Regions from separate parts of the Homo sapiens genome. Here region 2 is linked to region 1. The links come from fine-mapping of genetic effects on gene expression. Tissue or cell type: whole blood. Region 1 holds a variant in brackets; the other region holds the start of a gene. All regions are shown on one strand. Distances are between the middles of the regions.

Evidence for each region. PIP is the estimated chance that this variant, and not a neighbour inherited with it, causes the effect.
Region 2: CES1 starts here. The variant in region 1 is fine-mapped to the expression of CES1 in whole blood (GTEx, PIP above 0.99).

What each region holds. Positions count from the first base shown.
Region 1 is chr16:55,776,676-55,785,028 of GRCh38, forward strand. No RefSeq gene overlaps it. Among named protein-coding and RNA genes, the nearest start is that of CES1, 52 kb to the right of the region's middle. RefSeq lists an enhancer at 2,468-3,667. The variant G/A (reference allele first, on the strand shown) is at 4,256.
Region 2 is chr16:55,828,272-55,836,271 of GRCh38, forward strand. It overlaps CES1 (carboxylesterase 1), which reads right to left and starts at 4,825. Exons shown (of 14, transcript NM_001025195.2): 1 at 4,733-4,825; 2 at 496-703. The coding sequence starts at 4,784.

The DNA of each region.
Region 1 (8,353 bases):
TCTTCTGCTGCCCCCTGCCACTGGTACAAGTTGGGCTTGGGATAGAATGCCACTTTCCATGTTGATGGAGGGAAGGGACTTCACTCTTGAACTCTGTTGCCTGTGATCTTTGCAGCAAATTGCTATCACTGCTGGGTGTAAAACCACCACCTCAGCTGTGATGGTTCACTGCCTGCGACAGAAGACGGAAGAGGAGCTCTTGGAGACGACATTGAAAATGGTAGGTTGCCTGTTCCCGTAGCCCAAACACTGTAAACTTGGTCCCAGACTTCTTCATTTCAGCGGTCCTCTTGCCCTGGGACAGTTACCTGGGACAATTTCTCAAGTCTCGGGAGTCTCAGTATCTGAATGGGGAATCTAATTTGTCCTTTTTAATCGTAAAATGGCACAAATGTATAAAAAGAAAGTCAAAAAATAACATGATAAAGAATTGACCAAATTTACTATTTGATGAAAATTTAATATTTTGCCATTCTTGTTTTCAGATGTATTTTTGAGAAACTAAACATTACATATTCCCAGGGGACACCATCATGCTGAATTTGGGGGATGGAGATATTAAGCTCAAAGATTTTCAGAAAGATGTCACAATTTATCTTGGTTGACTTAGAAACTGTCTGTATTAGACCTGGTGGTGGTCCAGTTACATATATTTTCTGAGACTCTGACTCATTTATTGTTCTAGGATAGTCATTTGTCCACTCAATCATTAATCCATCTACTATGATCTTCTTATCCATCTGTATGTTCACTAATTCATCGCTTTCACTTATCTATTTTTATCAATCTAATATCAACCTGTTCGTAACTTTTTATGTATCTATTTTCAATCCATCCACCATTCATGGATCATCCAGCCACCTTATATCTCAACTCCATCACCCATTCCTCCAAAATCAACAATCCAGTTATCGCCTGTCTGCTAGTTTTCACCCATCTATTCATGTATCCATTCAATTCAACTGTACTCCATGTATTGACCAACTCCATCCATCCCTCCATTGATCCATCCATCCATCCATGCTAAATATGTAGGGGTGGGTGTTAGAGGTAGCAAAACAGACATGAAGTGGACATAGTCCCTGCTCTCAAGGAACTATCCAAAGAGAAATACATTCATATACTTCGCAGGTTGAGTATGGTGGCAGCACAGAGGGGAAGCATTCATTGTAGTAATCAGGGATGCTTCACAGAGAAGGCGGAGGAGCCAGATTTGAGACCAGACAGTGGAATTCAGGAGTTCATGCCCTTAACCCTGACTCCACCTTATCTTTCCTGAGAAATTCAGCTTTCAGATCATTGTGCCCATTTTAACAGAGGTAACAAAGACAGATAAATTTTGTAATTGCCCCATGTCACAGTTCTAATTAGTCAGAGGCAACACTGTGGGACACAGAGCCCACACCTGCGGGTCTAGAGTATCTTCTGCCTTCCCTGCTCCCTGCCATCCTCACATATTAGGACCTGGGGACCTTTAGGATTGATGGATGGCTGTGGCAGTCTCTCATCACAGGGAAGCCCAGCAGGACAAACACCCAGATGACACAGCACCCAGGGCCGTTGGGAACTATTCCCTTTGAGGGAGAAGAGTGTGAATTCCAAGCTCAGGAGTAGCCTGGACTCTCTCTTTGGACCTGAGGCTACTCCTGGGTCCCAGGGCCGGCCTCTACCACTGGACTCTGCTTGTGTTTCCATGGGTTGAGTCCAATGTGGTCTTGGGGCTTAGGTCTTGGTTCAGTCTCTAAGTGACCAAAGTGTTCAAGGAATTAAAACACACCTGTTTTCTAATGCCAGGAAGGAGGCAAATATTCCAGCAATTCTGCATGTGGCATCAGAGGACCCAGCTTAAAAGGGGAGAGTTGAGTCTTTGGGAAAACCTATCCCTAAGATCCTGGAACATCCTTTTGAGTTTTTCTGAGATCTTGTGGAAGTGCTTCCATGATTACGCATTGCCTCCAGTATGCACACATGCAGACACACAGACAAACACACATAGACACACACAGAGAAACACATACAGGCACACACACACACACACACAGACACACACAGACACCCACACACACAAAGAGACACACACACACACTCTTGGCTAGTGGGACTTCAATCCTTAATGGAGGGACATGCACTGGTTACGTCCGGAGCACAGGTCAGATCTTGGAACTACAATGCAACACTACAGTCACTGCAATCTTGGTGAACACACACCAAAGAGAAGCATGGGGTAGGGTGAGTCTCAGTGAGCTTGCATGAGTCAGGGCTTTCTGATAGGAGATGAGGAAACTCCCTTAAGTACCTTGAACAGAAAAAGAAATGTGTTGCAATAGCATCCTCATGTAAACTGAAAATCTCAGGAGTTGATGGCTTCAGGCATGGCTGGATCCAGATGATCATAGGATATTATTGAGAATCTACCATTCTCTATCCTTCAGCTTTGCACATTTCTGTGTTGGTTTCACTCTTAGGTAGATGTGTCTCCTCTGAAGGTTAAAGACAACAGCACTCTGGACTTATGTTCTATCTGCTTAAAAACCCTGTTTCTAAATAATTCCTGCAAAAGTTTTGGGGTAAACTATTGGATTGACATGGGTGTATGCCCATCCCTGAACTAATATTCATGTTCAGGGAGATGGAGCACCCCAGGTCACATATAGATATATGAATTCATGGAGTGATGGGAGAAGAAGGAGGTCTCTGAAGGAGAATTGGTGAGTTCTTCCCAGGTGAAGAGGAAGGGGAGAGGGATGGGGGGCCAGGCAGCCTCAACCAGCGGGGGTCCTCTCCAGAGCTCCATCGACCCTGGCTCAGAGTCCCCGGCCTGTCTTCCCCATGCTGATGCCCACCCCTCCCTGCTATGCCTTCACCCTGTGCTTAGGCCTAGCAGAGCCAGAGTCCTGCCCACTTCCTTTCAGCCCAGCCAGCTTGGCACCAGGAGGGAGAACCTGACACCCCTGTTGCCCCACTCACCCAGCTCAGTGTTCTCCTGGGAAGCCTCTCACCCACATCCTCTGCTTTTGTCTTCACAGAAATTCTTATCTCTGGACTTACAGGGAGACCTCAAAGAGGTAAGGACCTTTTGTTTCTGGATTACGGGTTTTGAGTCTTAGCACCTTTAAGTTCCAATGAACTGTGAGTGAAAGAATCCCCTCTCGGGTGGTTATAGTAACTCCTGTGTGTTTGTTGCCGAGGCCCAGAGAGGGGTAGTGACTCACCTGGGTAACACAACCAGGAAGACTAGTGGCTGGCCTGGAACCTATTTTCCTGACTCCCAGTCCAGTGCTCCCAGGCATCACCTCTGTGTGCCCTGGGCTCTGCCCACTCCCCTGCTTTTTTACATTTTCTACTCCCCAAAATGGCACTATGGAAGAAGGCTGAACCAGAATCTTCCACTCTCAGGAGGCAGAGATAATAGCGATGATTAGCCATGGAGGGAGGAAGCCTAAATCTCAGTCCAAGGACACTCGCCTCCTCCCAGCACACAGGAAACTCCAACAGTATCCTCCTGATCTCCTCACCCCCACCCCCACCTCCCAATGGGTTGACAGTTTCTGGTGACATCACCTCTGACGAATCTTACAATCCTGTCCTCTCTGCTGCCTCCCTGGAGGCCGCAGCACTCTCCTAAATGGTCATGGGCGGAGTACATGAGATTCATTCAGCAAAGATAATAAACACTTCCTATGTGCCAGGACTTGTTTAGGAGCTGGGGATATAACAGTGAAAAAAGAAAGACTCCCTGCCCTCTTGGGACCTTCCTTTACAGTGCAAGGACAGTGCAATAAAAAAGCAAATCAAGTATGTATTCCATTTGATGGTGTGCAGCATTAGGGGATAGAGTTTGTGGGTGGTTTCAATTTCAGTAGCAGGATCAGGGAATGGTTCAATGAGAAGGTGGCATTTGAGCCAAGCTCTGGAGGAGGCAGGAAGCCAGCTGTCAGGAAACCTGGAGAAGCCTATTCCAGGCAGAGGGAATAGTCACTGCAAAGACCCTGACAGAAGGGGCCAGTCTGGCTGGAGAGGACCGAGTGTGGGGACAGACTGGCTTGAGGCTAAAGAGGTAATTGGCAGTGGGAGAGAGATCAATTAAAGTACTTGGATTTGGATTCAGAGCAAGATGGGAAACCTTTGGAGGTTTTGAACAGAGGAGTCACATGTTCTTAGATCTCACAAAGGTCTCTGCCTCCGGTGTTCAAATAGACTGTAGGAAAGGGGCAGAGTGGATGCAGTTGACCAGCTGGGCAGCCACTGCATTGCC[G/A]TAATCCAGGCAAGGGCAAGGGCTCCTGGCTGCTTAGACAGGGCTGTGGCAGTGGGGATGGGAGGAGTAGTTGGAGTCTGGATATCTTTGAAGGAATAGCTGACAGGATTTGCTGATGGACAGGATGCAGCGGGTGAGAAAGAGAGAGGAGTGGAGGACGCCCTGAGTTTTCTGACACAAGCAAGGTTATGCCCACACAGGGCAGCCACTTGCAAACTCTGAGTGGACAACAGCAATCACTTGTCATTGTTGCTGATGGCAGTCTTCCTGCATTGCTGCTGCCCAACTGGGGCTCTCCTGTCTCTTGCCTCAACTTTTATCCTCTTCTACTTCACCTCCCCTCCCCATTTCCACGTCTCATGGTGCAGCCAGACTGTCCTTCCTTAACAGAGTTAGAGCACGTCACTCCCACTTCTTAAAAGCCTGACCTTCCTTATGAGACAAATCCCCTTCCCTCCATGGAGTTAGTCCTTCAAAACACACCTGCGTGCACACTGTGTGCCAGACTGTGCAGAAGGTAGGCTCTGCACCTGTCCCTCCCTCTAGACCCTGCCCCACAGCATTTCTCCAAGCCCAGAACTCTTGGTTGTTTCTGGAATTTACCCTGCACAGTGACACCTATGTCCTTTTGCTCATGCGGTTCCCACTGTTTAGAAATTCTCACTCCTTTCCTCACCTGTCAATACCATTCACTGCCCAGAGCCCACCGCAGGCGGGCGGCACCTCCTCCACGTAGTCTGCCCTGCATCTTCCTTCCAGAGGGGCTGCTCCTCTTTCCGGCCCCTCACGGCAGCCCTGCCTGAACTGCACAGCCTCTCAAGGCACCCAGACTTGCACCCCAATCCTGTTCTGTGCGTCAGCCATGTTGGATTAGGATCTGATCTTGTCCAGCTAGGTCTGGTCCACTTTTCAGAACATCTCCCCCAAGGCAGTCCGAACTAGCTTGTCATTCATTGGCTTTTGTAGGCAGACCAAAGGTCCCGGAAGCCATAGGGTCTCAAAGGCTAGGAATTTTCCAGTTCCATCTGATATCCAGGAGGGAAACACAGCCCATGGGGCGTGAAACTGGGAAGATGGCACAGAGGACTGGTGTCTATGAGAGGGACCCACAGCAACCTTGCTAACAAGTAATACCTAACAGTTATTCAGCCTTTCCAGACACCAGGTGCTGTGCTAAGTATTTTACATGTGTTCAGCTATTTAATCCTCACAATAACTCACCTCTTAGATGAGAAAACTGAGGCCCAAACAGGTGAAACTCCTAGCCAGTAAGTAGCAGAGCCAGGCTTCAGATGCAGTTAATCTGGTTTCAAAGTCCATGCTCTATCTTAGCAACTACACCATTGTGACTAAATATGAAATATAACTGTACCCAGAACCAGCTGCCCTGATGGCAACGCGTGAGTCAGACTCTCTCTAATCTGTGACCACATAAAAATTATTCATTAAAGGTAAAACCTAAAATTAAGACATGGATCAATATACTGTGAGTTAATCACTGATTCTTTTACTCATAATTTTCTCTCTAATAGGGAATCTCGTCCTAGTCTAGGCTCCTTGAGTGATGAGGGTTCAGTACTTCCTCAAAGCCACCCATGGATCAATAACAGCTCTTGTTTAAATACAGATAGATAGCATAATCTCTTCCTCATTAATCATGGATTTTGCGTTTATAAATTCACCTGCTTGCTAAAATGTCCTTATAAACCCCAAATCGATACTGGTGGCACTTTCATGGTCACACAGGCAGGCACAGAGCAGGGGAAGCTGGATTTGCATGATGGGCATGTTCCATCTGAGATCTGGTGAGGCAACCCCTGTCTTCTTGTTTCATCTCTGATGTTTACAAGTGTCCTCTTCGCAGTCTATTTAGTGCCGTGTGTTCTGCATTTTTGTGCTTTTTGTAGTGATGTCACTGTTTAGAGCGAACCCAAGAGTAGCGCTGCTGTCTGGCGTTCCTGAGCTAAACAGGCTGTGCTGTGCCTTACGGGGAAGGTGCCTGTGTGAGACAAGCTTGGATGAGGCAGGAGCTGCAGTGCTGCTGGCCGTGCATTTGGTGTTGAAAAATCCACATAATAGCACATTCAGAAAAAGGAGAAGGAAATTGGCTGATTCATACATGAGGCTGTGATAGAAAGGGCTAAAGTAACACCTATTGTGTGGGATGGAGCCGTGGAAGTCTCTTTCAACAGAAACCCACACATAAAAGAAGGTTGATGAAAATGTTGTGGCCAGAGGTTTGCAAAAACCTAACCCAGTATTTCCCCCTTGAGTGATGACCCTGTATTCTCTAATTCAGTACTCATGGGGGCTTTATCAGAAGCAACTGCCAGGACTACCGAAAATCAACTGTGGACACACAGAGGAAAATGCATGCACTTCAAATTGAAATATACAGACATGTAATTTTACATAGATAATACATGTATTTCAATATGAGTGAAGATTTCTTCCTCTCCTCATCATCTGACCAGTGTCAGCCTCTGCCTGAAGTTCTACCCCTGAGTCACAGAGGCCTACCCCCTTAAGTTAGGACCCTGAGTATGTGCAGCCGTGGCCCATGGCCATGCCGGTCTGTGGTACTGGTCTCACCCTCAGACAGGCAGAGTTGGGGACATGGGTGTGACTAGGGAGGGAATCACAGGCACTGCACTTCTCTCTCCCCCAGAGTCACCACTATTTGGCCACCGTGATTGATGGGGTGGTGCTGCTGAAAACACCTGAAGAGCTTCAAGCTGAAAGGAAGTTCCACACTGTCCCCTACATGGTCGGAATTAACAAGCAGGAGTTTGGCTGGATGCTTCCAATGGTGAGAAGGTGCAAGCCTCTTGGAGGGACTCACCCACCACCATCAGCCCTCCTGTCTCTAGTCCCAGAAGTGCTTCCCTCTCCGAGCCACACTCTGAGTCCTGGGCAGCTGTTCCCTTCAGCAGGAGTTACCATTTCCATGGAAATCTGCTCCAGGAGGGCACAGTTGTCACCGGGATATCAGTGCCCTGGGATCCCCTCTCCCCAGACTCTCTGATTATCTTCCTGTTGAAGAATCCTGAAGTGTCTGTGCTGGGAGGACCAGTAGAGAAAATAACTGTGCAGATGGGAAAACTGAGGGGGCCTGCATGGGGGAAGGAGTTGAGGAGTCTGGAGAGGCAGTCGGGGGCTTCCCGGCTTCCTGCCTCGGGCTGGGTGTGCGTAGTTCCCCTGAAAATCACTCATGCTCTTCATCACCTCATTGAAAATATCCAAAGAAAGTGGCTTCTTCTTGAGTTACCATTGACTTCTAGGGAACAGTAGACATCAGGGTCTACTAAGAGAGTGGAGGGTCAGAGGAAGATGAGGATGGAAAAGCTACCTAATCGGGTGCTATGCTCAATACCTGGTAACAAAATAATCTATACAGCAAACTCCAGAGACCCAAATTACCCATGATCAAACCTGCACAGTTACCCCCAAACCTAAAATAAAAGTTGGAAACAGATAAATGGAAAAAGTAATTGAGTTCTAGAAGTAAAGAAGCGTTCTCCTTCCAGTTGAAGATAAACAAAACTGACCCTTGTTAAAGCAGTAGGACAGGTTTATTCAGTAATATGATTGCAATAGGGGAAATATTCCGGCGTGGACTGGACTCACATCCCCAAAACAAAAGCCTGGTGATGTTTCATAAGCCAGGGGCGCCAAGGGAAACACACTGTGGTCTGTGGGGAGAGGCTTGGTCCATGTGACTAGACCACCTGGATCTCTTCATCCTGGCTCACCTGGGGCAGAAACAAACTCCTCTTATCTTTAGGACAGGAAGCCATGCGTTAGACTGCAGGAAGAATCCACTGAAGTCAGGCTCTATTCTTTCCACAGGGACTGGGAAGATCAAGAGTGAGCTCCTTGAATGTTTGCACTGCAAAGAGAAGGGTCTCACGTCCCCCAGGAAACAGGGTTGGGTGATAGATTCACATCCCAAACGACAGAGAAAGGGTTTATTATTGCAGGCTTTCTAAAGTAACTGCTCTATTTGGGTCCAGGGGACATCTGCTTTTCTCTAGGTTTTCGCTGGAGCAAGAGTAAATTATCCTGGCAGAGTTGAGCCTCCACAGGCAGGCATGTTAA
Region 2 (8,000 bases), 51 kb after region 1:
CACTTGCCGAGTGGACACCTCAGTACACTTGCCACCCACACACCTCCTGGCCCACTCCTCTCCCCGACTATGTCAAAATTCAAGACAGCAGAATTCATGGGATCCTTCCTTCTGATCTCCCTCACCTGCTTAACTGCTTCTTTGTTTCCAAGGCACTTTTCCTGTTCTATCATATCACATAATCCACGGAGTAATTTGCATATTGTTCTTATCTGTCTCCCCCTGCTAGAATGCACGCTCCAGGAACCTAGGGATCTTTGCTTTTTCACTAATGGATCCCAAGAACCCAGAACACGCCTGGCACACAGCAGGTGCTCAATAAACATGTGTTAAATAATGGACTCCAGAATGCTGTGAGAGTTCTGGAATGTTCTTAAGGATCTACAAAGATCTTAAGGAGTCCAGAGCAAAGGATCAGCCCGTCAGGGGACTGCCTTGACTCCTTCCTGCATCACTTTGAGGTAAACATCCCCAAGGACACATGCCGCAGCTTACATAGGAGGGTACGAGGTGGCATTCTTCACAAAGCTCCATGGTTCTGCAGGCTGCGGTGGAGTAAACCTCAGGGGTCCAAGAGGCGGCTTGGCAAAAGGGATTCCCAGGAAAATGGCCACAGGCTGTGCAAATCCTTCTAAGCTGACGAACTTCCCCAGCACTTTGCCATGCACGGTGTCCACCACAGGTGGCGAGGACGGATGCCCTGCTGGACATGGAGAATAAATCAGGATGCATCAGAGGCAAAAGGCTGGACCCAGATTCCAGGTGGAGTTTGCCGCTTTCTAAGTGAGTGACCTTAAATAAGTCACCTAAACCCTCTAGGCCTCAGTTTCTCTTGATGTACAATAGGGATGACGATCAATGTCCTCCCTAACCCATTGAGCTGGTTTAATGGGCAAACTAGAATTGGAGGCATAAAAACATCCAGCTAAAAATAAATGCAAGAAGGAGAGCTACTAGGAAAGAACAAGACATTTAGCTTCCCCCTTAGAAGTCTCTGGAAACATTTATCCATTAGAATCCTGGCACTGAGCCGCATGCTGGATGAGAGGATGAAAAAGGGGTGTCCCATATTCTCACAAGCACTGACCATTATAGGGAAGGGTCACATATACACCTGGGGCTACAGCTGGGAAGGAAGTGGCCATGTCCTGGGAGAGGTACCCATAAGGCAGTCTAGGAATTAGAAGAGGGGGCAAGGCCTTCTGATTGCGGGCATCATGGAGGAGCTGGGACTTGCGGCAGGGGAGGACTGAATGAGGGGAGATGAGAAGCAGAGAGTGGTACACAGCAGAGAGAAGGGAATTTGCTGAGGCTCAGAGCAGCAGAATGCAGAGCCTGCCTGGGGAAGGGGGCATGGCCCACATGCACCAGGTGGAGTCTGGGGGGAGTGGAAAATATTCCTGGAATGAGACCGCACATGTCAGGGAGGGCTTAGAATGCCAGGCTAAGCGCTTGAGTTTTCTTTAATGGACAAATAAGCAGCAGGAACCGTTCCAGATAAAGGATGTGATCAGGTCAAGGAAGATTCTTCTGGTGGCCCTGGGCAGGTCTGCTCCATTCTTGCAGCACGGACAATGTTTCCTCACTGAGCTGAAATTCATTTCCCACAGCCTCCGCATCAGTTCTGGTTCTACCTGTCATGGGACTATACTGGCCTGATCTGATCTGCAGCCTGTGGCCTTTCAGACACTTGATCTTGCTGCCCACCCCTCAGGTCCTATCTGGCTCCAGTCACCTCAGTTTCTCTGAGCTTCCCTCCTAGGAAATGATTTCCAGCCTCTTGTCCTCCCAGCTGCTCTGCTTTGGATACAGACAAGACGTCAACACCTCCCTCAAAGTGTGGGGCTAGAGCAGAACAGAACAATTCAGATTTGGTCTTAAAGGGGAATATCCAATCACAATGGAAACCCATTATGGAAAGCCCAGTTACACAACAGCATCCATGTCTCATCTTATTAATAGCCAACCCTGCAATGTCAATATTTAGCTTCTTTTCTTTTGTTGTTGTTGCTAATTACAAATAATACTGAGATGAACTTCCTTGGAAGCATGTTTATCGACATAGCAATGGGTGGTGGCATTACATGTGGCCTGTTTTCTTGGTGATTTCCACCTTTTCAGCACTGTATGGGATTTCCGGTCTTCACCTGAAATCCTCCCCCCCATCTTAATTATTTTAAAATTTTAAATAAAAAAAGAAAAAATATGTAGAAATATGATGATGTCTAAAAGGTATTTTGAAAGACTTGGAGACCAGGCACAGTGGATCACCTGTAATCCCAGCACTTTGGGAGGCCAAGGCAGGCAGATCATTTGAGGTCAGGAGTTCAAGACCAGCCTGGCCAACATGGTGAAACCCCCTCTCTACTGAAAATAGAAAAATTAGCTGGGTGTGGTAGCATGTGCCTGTAATCCTGGCTCCTCCAGAGAGAGAGAAGAAGGAAAGAAGGAAAGGAAAGATGGAAGGATGGAAGGAAGGAAGGAAAGAAGGAAGGAAGGAAAGAAGGAAGGAAGGAAGGAAGGAAGGAAGGAAGGAAGGAAGGAAGGAAGGCAGGCAGGCAGGCAGGCAGGCAGGCAAGTGGGAGTGAGGGAGGGAGGGAAAGAAAAGAAAGGAAAAGAAAAGACTTGGTCCCTGACCAGAGGTGGGGGAAATGGAAGGGAAAGAAGACCAAAGAGCTGGCTTGTAATGCTGGATCCCTGTTTACACAGGCTCGGTGGAGATGTGAGTGGGATATCCAGGCAAGATGATGCCACAGGATGAGCGCACTTCAAAGCTGGAAGGAAGCCTGGTGAGGGAGCAGGGCAGAATCTTCTCCTGGACTGTGAGGGTACATACGGTGGATGTGTATGGCTTCATTGAAGATGCCAGTGTGAGAGGGAAGAGAAAAAAAAACAAAGGTCAAACACAGGGACCACTACGGCCAAGACCAAAGATCCATCAGAATAGGGGAGAGAGAACGTTCCCATGTCTTTGAAGCCCAGGGAGCAAGAGGGCGAGGAACCAGCTAAGAGTGCTGAGGACTTCAGGGAGGTGGAGGAGAGTCAAGTCAGAGAAGAAACCACTGGGCTGGTCATGCTCAGCTCAGGGATTCCCTTCAACAGGATGAGGTGGATGGCAGCCAGATTGCCAAGGGTGAAAAAGTGGGTGAATGGGGGGAGGCAGAAACAAGTGTGAGAACAAGACCAGTTGCTGCTGATGTTATATGAAGCACGAACATGGTGGGCACCTACTATGTGCCAGGCATGCATTCCAGTTTTTTAAATTAATCTTCAAATAAGCCTTGCTGGGTAGGCATCAACATGCCCATTTTACAGAGGAGGAAACTGAGGAAGTGGAGGCAGCCTGTATGGTCTTCCTAAGGAAGGAAATGGATGGCATTGCCAGGAGTAACCAGAGGTAAAGGAACATTCAGTTCCAAATAGGCTTCCTCTCTTCTCTGCCCTTCCCCACAGTTCCAGAGCTCTCGCAGTGTCAGGCTGCCAGAAGGAAGACAGGATGCAGACGGGGCTGGGCTGTCAGGATTCAGGACCCAGAGACAGACCTAGGCGTGATTTTCGGGTTGACCCTGGGCAAGTACATTTCCCTGTGTGAGTCTCAGTTTCTCTGTCTATAAAATGGCATGGGGGTATTTCGAGGCCCCTCGCTGCACCCCTCTATGTACCATGTGTTTTGCTTTCTGTATTCTGATGCTCTGGCATCTGAGGCCTTGTTGACCTTGGAGAAACTCCCTCCCAGGGTCCAGCCACCCCAGAGCCCACACCCCAACTGCCTCTTTGATCGGGTTGCCATGCCCTGGCCACTACCCACCTGCCCTAATCATGCCAGGGCTAGGTACAAAACAATTAGGAACAGCCCCTGTGCCCCAGAGCCCCTGAAGTATCCCAACTTGCCAGTCCTCAGCCTGCCTGCCCTGCCTTTCCTCTTCTATCCTTGGAAGCCACAGTAAAAGCCCCTTGGCCTCAGATCCGCCCTGTCCCCTCCCCAGGCTCTGCTGCTTCCCCTTGTGCCCCGCGCACTGGTGTCCCCCTCCTGTTGAGAACATGAGTAAGAAACTGTCTTTTTAATGGCAAGAGGTCCTGATATAGTGGCCTGACCACAGCTCAAATTTTCTATTCATACACTACGTTTTTAAACAGCGCCTTTATTTATCCATCCCTTTTTCGTGCTTTCTACATACCAGGCGCTGCCAAGAGTGCTTTAGAAACAGCCACCCATTTCCTCCTCACCAAAGCCCAGTGAGGTAGGCAGCACTGCCACCTCTGTTTCAGAGAGGGGGTAACCCAAGCACGGAATAGCGCAGTCCCTTGCCTAAGGACACACAGCGAGGAAGCGCCCAGCGGGGACTCGAACCCACGCACTCTGGCTCCAGAGTCGATGCTCTTAATATTATGTTGAGCCGCTCTCCGTGATCCAGCCGTAAGGGGACTAATTAAGGGACAGCAAACTGAGCTGCCTAAATTTCTCGTGTGTGCGGCCTGAGGTGGGCCGGCTGTCGGCCTGCATTTGGGCGAGCAGTACAGGGCGATCTCAGGATGTTCACCCTCCCTGCGTCTCCGCGCGGGCCAGGCTGGCCGGGCTCAGCTGCTCCAAGTCCAAGTCCTAATATGGAAGTCGTGCCCCGCCGCAGAGCCGGACCTGTTGTGTCTTTGCCTTTCTACGCATCTGCGCCCACCTCGGCCCAGAACAAGGATTTCAAAAAGTGCCCCGCATTTTGATTTCAGAAGGACTCACCCCAAGCCGCGGAAGCAGAGAGAGTGGCCAGGATAAAGGCACGGAGCCACATCGTGGAAGGGCGACAGTTCTCGGGGCCTGCGAGGTCTCTGTGCAGTTCAGAGGGACTGTGCTGTCCAGCCCTGGAGCCCAGCCCCGCCCAGAGTTACCGCCCTGCGCTGCCAATTGCCTAATCCTCTAATTGGGAGAGATCAGAAAAGCCCTCCCTTTCCTCAGATCTCCCTGGGCTTCTAGTGGGGCCTCAGGCCACGCCCACCCACAGTTTACCCTCTTTCATCAAACCAGTCTGGACTCTACTGTCAGATTACAGAGAGCTGTAAACTTGCCCAACTACTTGTTACATAAGGGTTCACCCTTGCAGGACTCTAACCTCAGTGCACTGTGACGGCCCCCAAGGGCCCACACCAGCAGGCAGATGCTTTTAGGCAAAGGGAAGCTTTGATCTGAGGTCCTCAGAAACAACTGGAAAATGTTAGAGCCACTCACACCTCACAGCTCAGCTGGGTAAGTTAGGACATATCTCAGCTCCCAGGGCTTGTGTTTTCATAGCTTTCCAGGCTCTCAAGCTTGGAAGCGATCTTAAATTTCATCGAGTCCCCTTTCTGAGGCCTGAATTAGCTTCACAATATCCTGCCAACTGGTCCAGCCTCCTGTCACACACCATCGGTGTCAGAGAACTCACTACTTTCCAAAGCAGGGATTTTTGGACAGAATGTAAAAATGAACTCCGTCCCCCCATAGTCCCTGGCTGTTATCATCCATCCATCCAAGTACCCATCCATTTTGTGAACATTTACCAAAATGCTTGGCACCTGGCCATGTATAATGGATACAAAGACCAATTCAAGACATGGTTCAGCTTCTCAAGGGGCTCACCATTGTAGACAAGACAGATGGGGTGGAGGAGCAGTAGGGGTGATGTCAAGGCAATGTGAAATCACCAAATTAAGGGGATACAGAGTGCTCTGGGCACACCTGGAAAACTGTCATTTACAAGCTGCTGGGGACACAAGGAAGTCACTCAAAGCCTCTTTCATGGGATTATTAAATGTCCAACAATAGGGAATTCACTAAACACACTGTGGTACCGCTGGCTAAGGAAATACGATGTATTCACTCAAAATAGTGATGTGCACAGCTATTTATTAACAATGAAGACAGGATGCGTTGTGAAAGGAGAAAATAATAGGTTATAAACTGTTGTGCGGTGTAGGCAGTTCCTCAAAAAGTTCAACACAGAGTTTCCATATGACCCAGCAATTCCCCTCCTAGGTGTCTACCGAAGAGAACTGAAAGCATGTCCACACAAAAGCTTGTACACAAAGAGCAGTGTCATTCATCCTAGTCAAAAAGTGGGCACAACCCGCATGTCCATGACCTGATGAATGTGTAAATGAAGTGTGGTGTATGCGTGCAGAGGCATATCATCCAGCCATAAGAAGAACATGCTACAACGTGGATGAAGCTGGAAAACATCATGGTAAAGGAAAGAAGCCAGCCACAAAAGGCCACATGTCGTATGATGCTTTTTATATGTAATTTCCAAAATAGTCAAATCCATGGAGACAGAAAGTGTTTGACAGGGTCTGGGGAAGGGGAAAGAGACGGGGATGAGGAGTGACTGCTAATGGGCATGAGTTTTATCTTGGGGGTGGTAAAAATGTCCTGGGATTAAATAGTGATGATGTTAGTGCAACTTTGGGAATATACTAAACACCACTAGATTGTACACTTTAAAAAGGTAAACTTTATGACATGTGACTTATATTTCAATAAAATAATGAAATATTTTTGAAAATCTAGATAGGTATAATATGGTCCCGTTTTGGTAGTAACATATGTCTTTATTTGCATAGGAAAATACTGGAAGTCTATATATCTAATTAGAATTACAACAGCCATTTCCTGGCTGTAATCTTGTCAGTGTTTCACTTATTTGCATTTTCCACTTTTATTCCTTCATACATTCATTGACAAATATTTACTGAGAGCTTACTGTGTGGCAAACACTATGCCGAGAGTTTTGTATGCAGGATCTCAGTTCTCAAAATAACCCCGTGAGATTAATGCTGTCTCACGATCTTAAATTGATTTCTGTTGTTTAAGCCACCCAGTCTGTGATATTTTCTTCTGGCAGCCTAAGTAGACTAATACATAGGCTCAACTCAATTCCGTTATTTATTCCCAAAAGAAACTAAGGCCCAGAGATGAGGAGGGATTGCCTAAGGTCACACAGCAACTCAATGGCAAAGTCAGAACCAGAACTTGAGGCTTCTGCCTTCCAGCACAGGGTGGCTGGCAGCCATTTCTCTTGCTTTTATACATCAGGAAGATATTCTAATCAGTAGCCTTATCTAAGGCAAATTGCCTTGTCAGCTCATTGACCCAGGCTTAGCATGGTAGGGCTGAAGGGATAGAAATAGCCAGGGGAGGCTGGGCACTGTGGCAACCCTTCCCGCTCGGTAATCCTAGCACTTTGGCAAGCCAAGGTGGGAAGATTGCTTGAGAGAGGAGTTCAAGACCAACCTGGGAAACATAGTAAGACCCTATCTCTACAAGAATAAGGAGAAAGGAAGAAGAAGAAAAAGAGGAAGGAGAAGAAGGAGAAGGAGGGAAGAAAGAAGAAGAGGAAGAAGAAGAAGAAAGACAGAGAGAGACAAAGAAAGAAAGAGAGAGGAAGGAAGGAAGGAAGGAAGGAAGGAAGGAAGGAAGGAAGGGACAAAGATGGGAGCCATGTACCAGGTACCTGGGGAGCTATGTTCTATTTTCCCAATGTCACTTGGCAAGCCTGCCCTTGTCCAGGCCACACCACTATTGACATCAGGAAAGATTGGGCAACCAGCAGCCATAAATCACATGACAGTCCCAGAGCTGCTGATGGATTCTTGCCCAAGGCCATGAGTTGTAGCTGAAATGAAACTTCTGGAGACCCAAATTCAAAAAGGCATGCTCATTAGCACTCATTCTAGCCACGTGCAGGCTGGTGAGGGGCATTCTGTGATGGGAATGAGGATGCTCTGACAGCATGAGAATCAGTCCCCAGAGCTAACTGACTCTACAAAGGTTGACCTGAGCTTTAGGGTTCCTCCCTTACTTTTATCCAGGACAGAAATCTGGCTGATAAACTGCATGCTAATAAAAAGCATCCCTATCTCTATCCACAAGGGACAAATTGGGAGGTCCTCCTAAATAGAAAGCAAGGCTAGTCCCACTCACTCAGCACAACACACACACACACACACACACATGTGCACGCATGCGCGTGCCT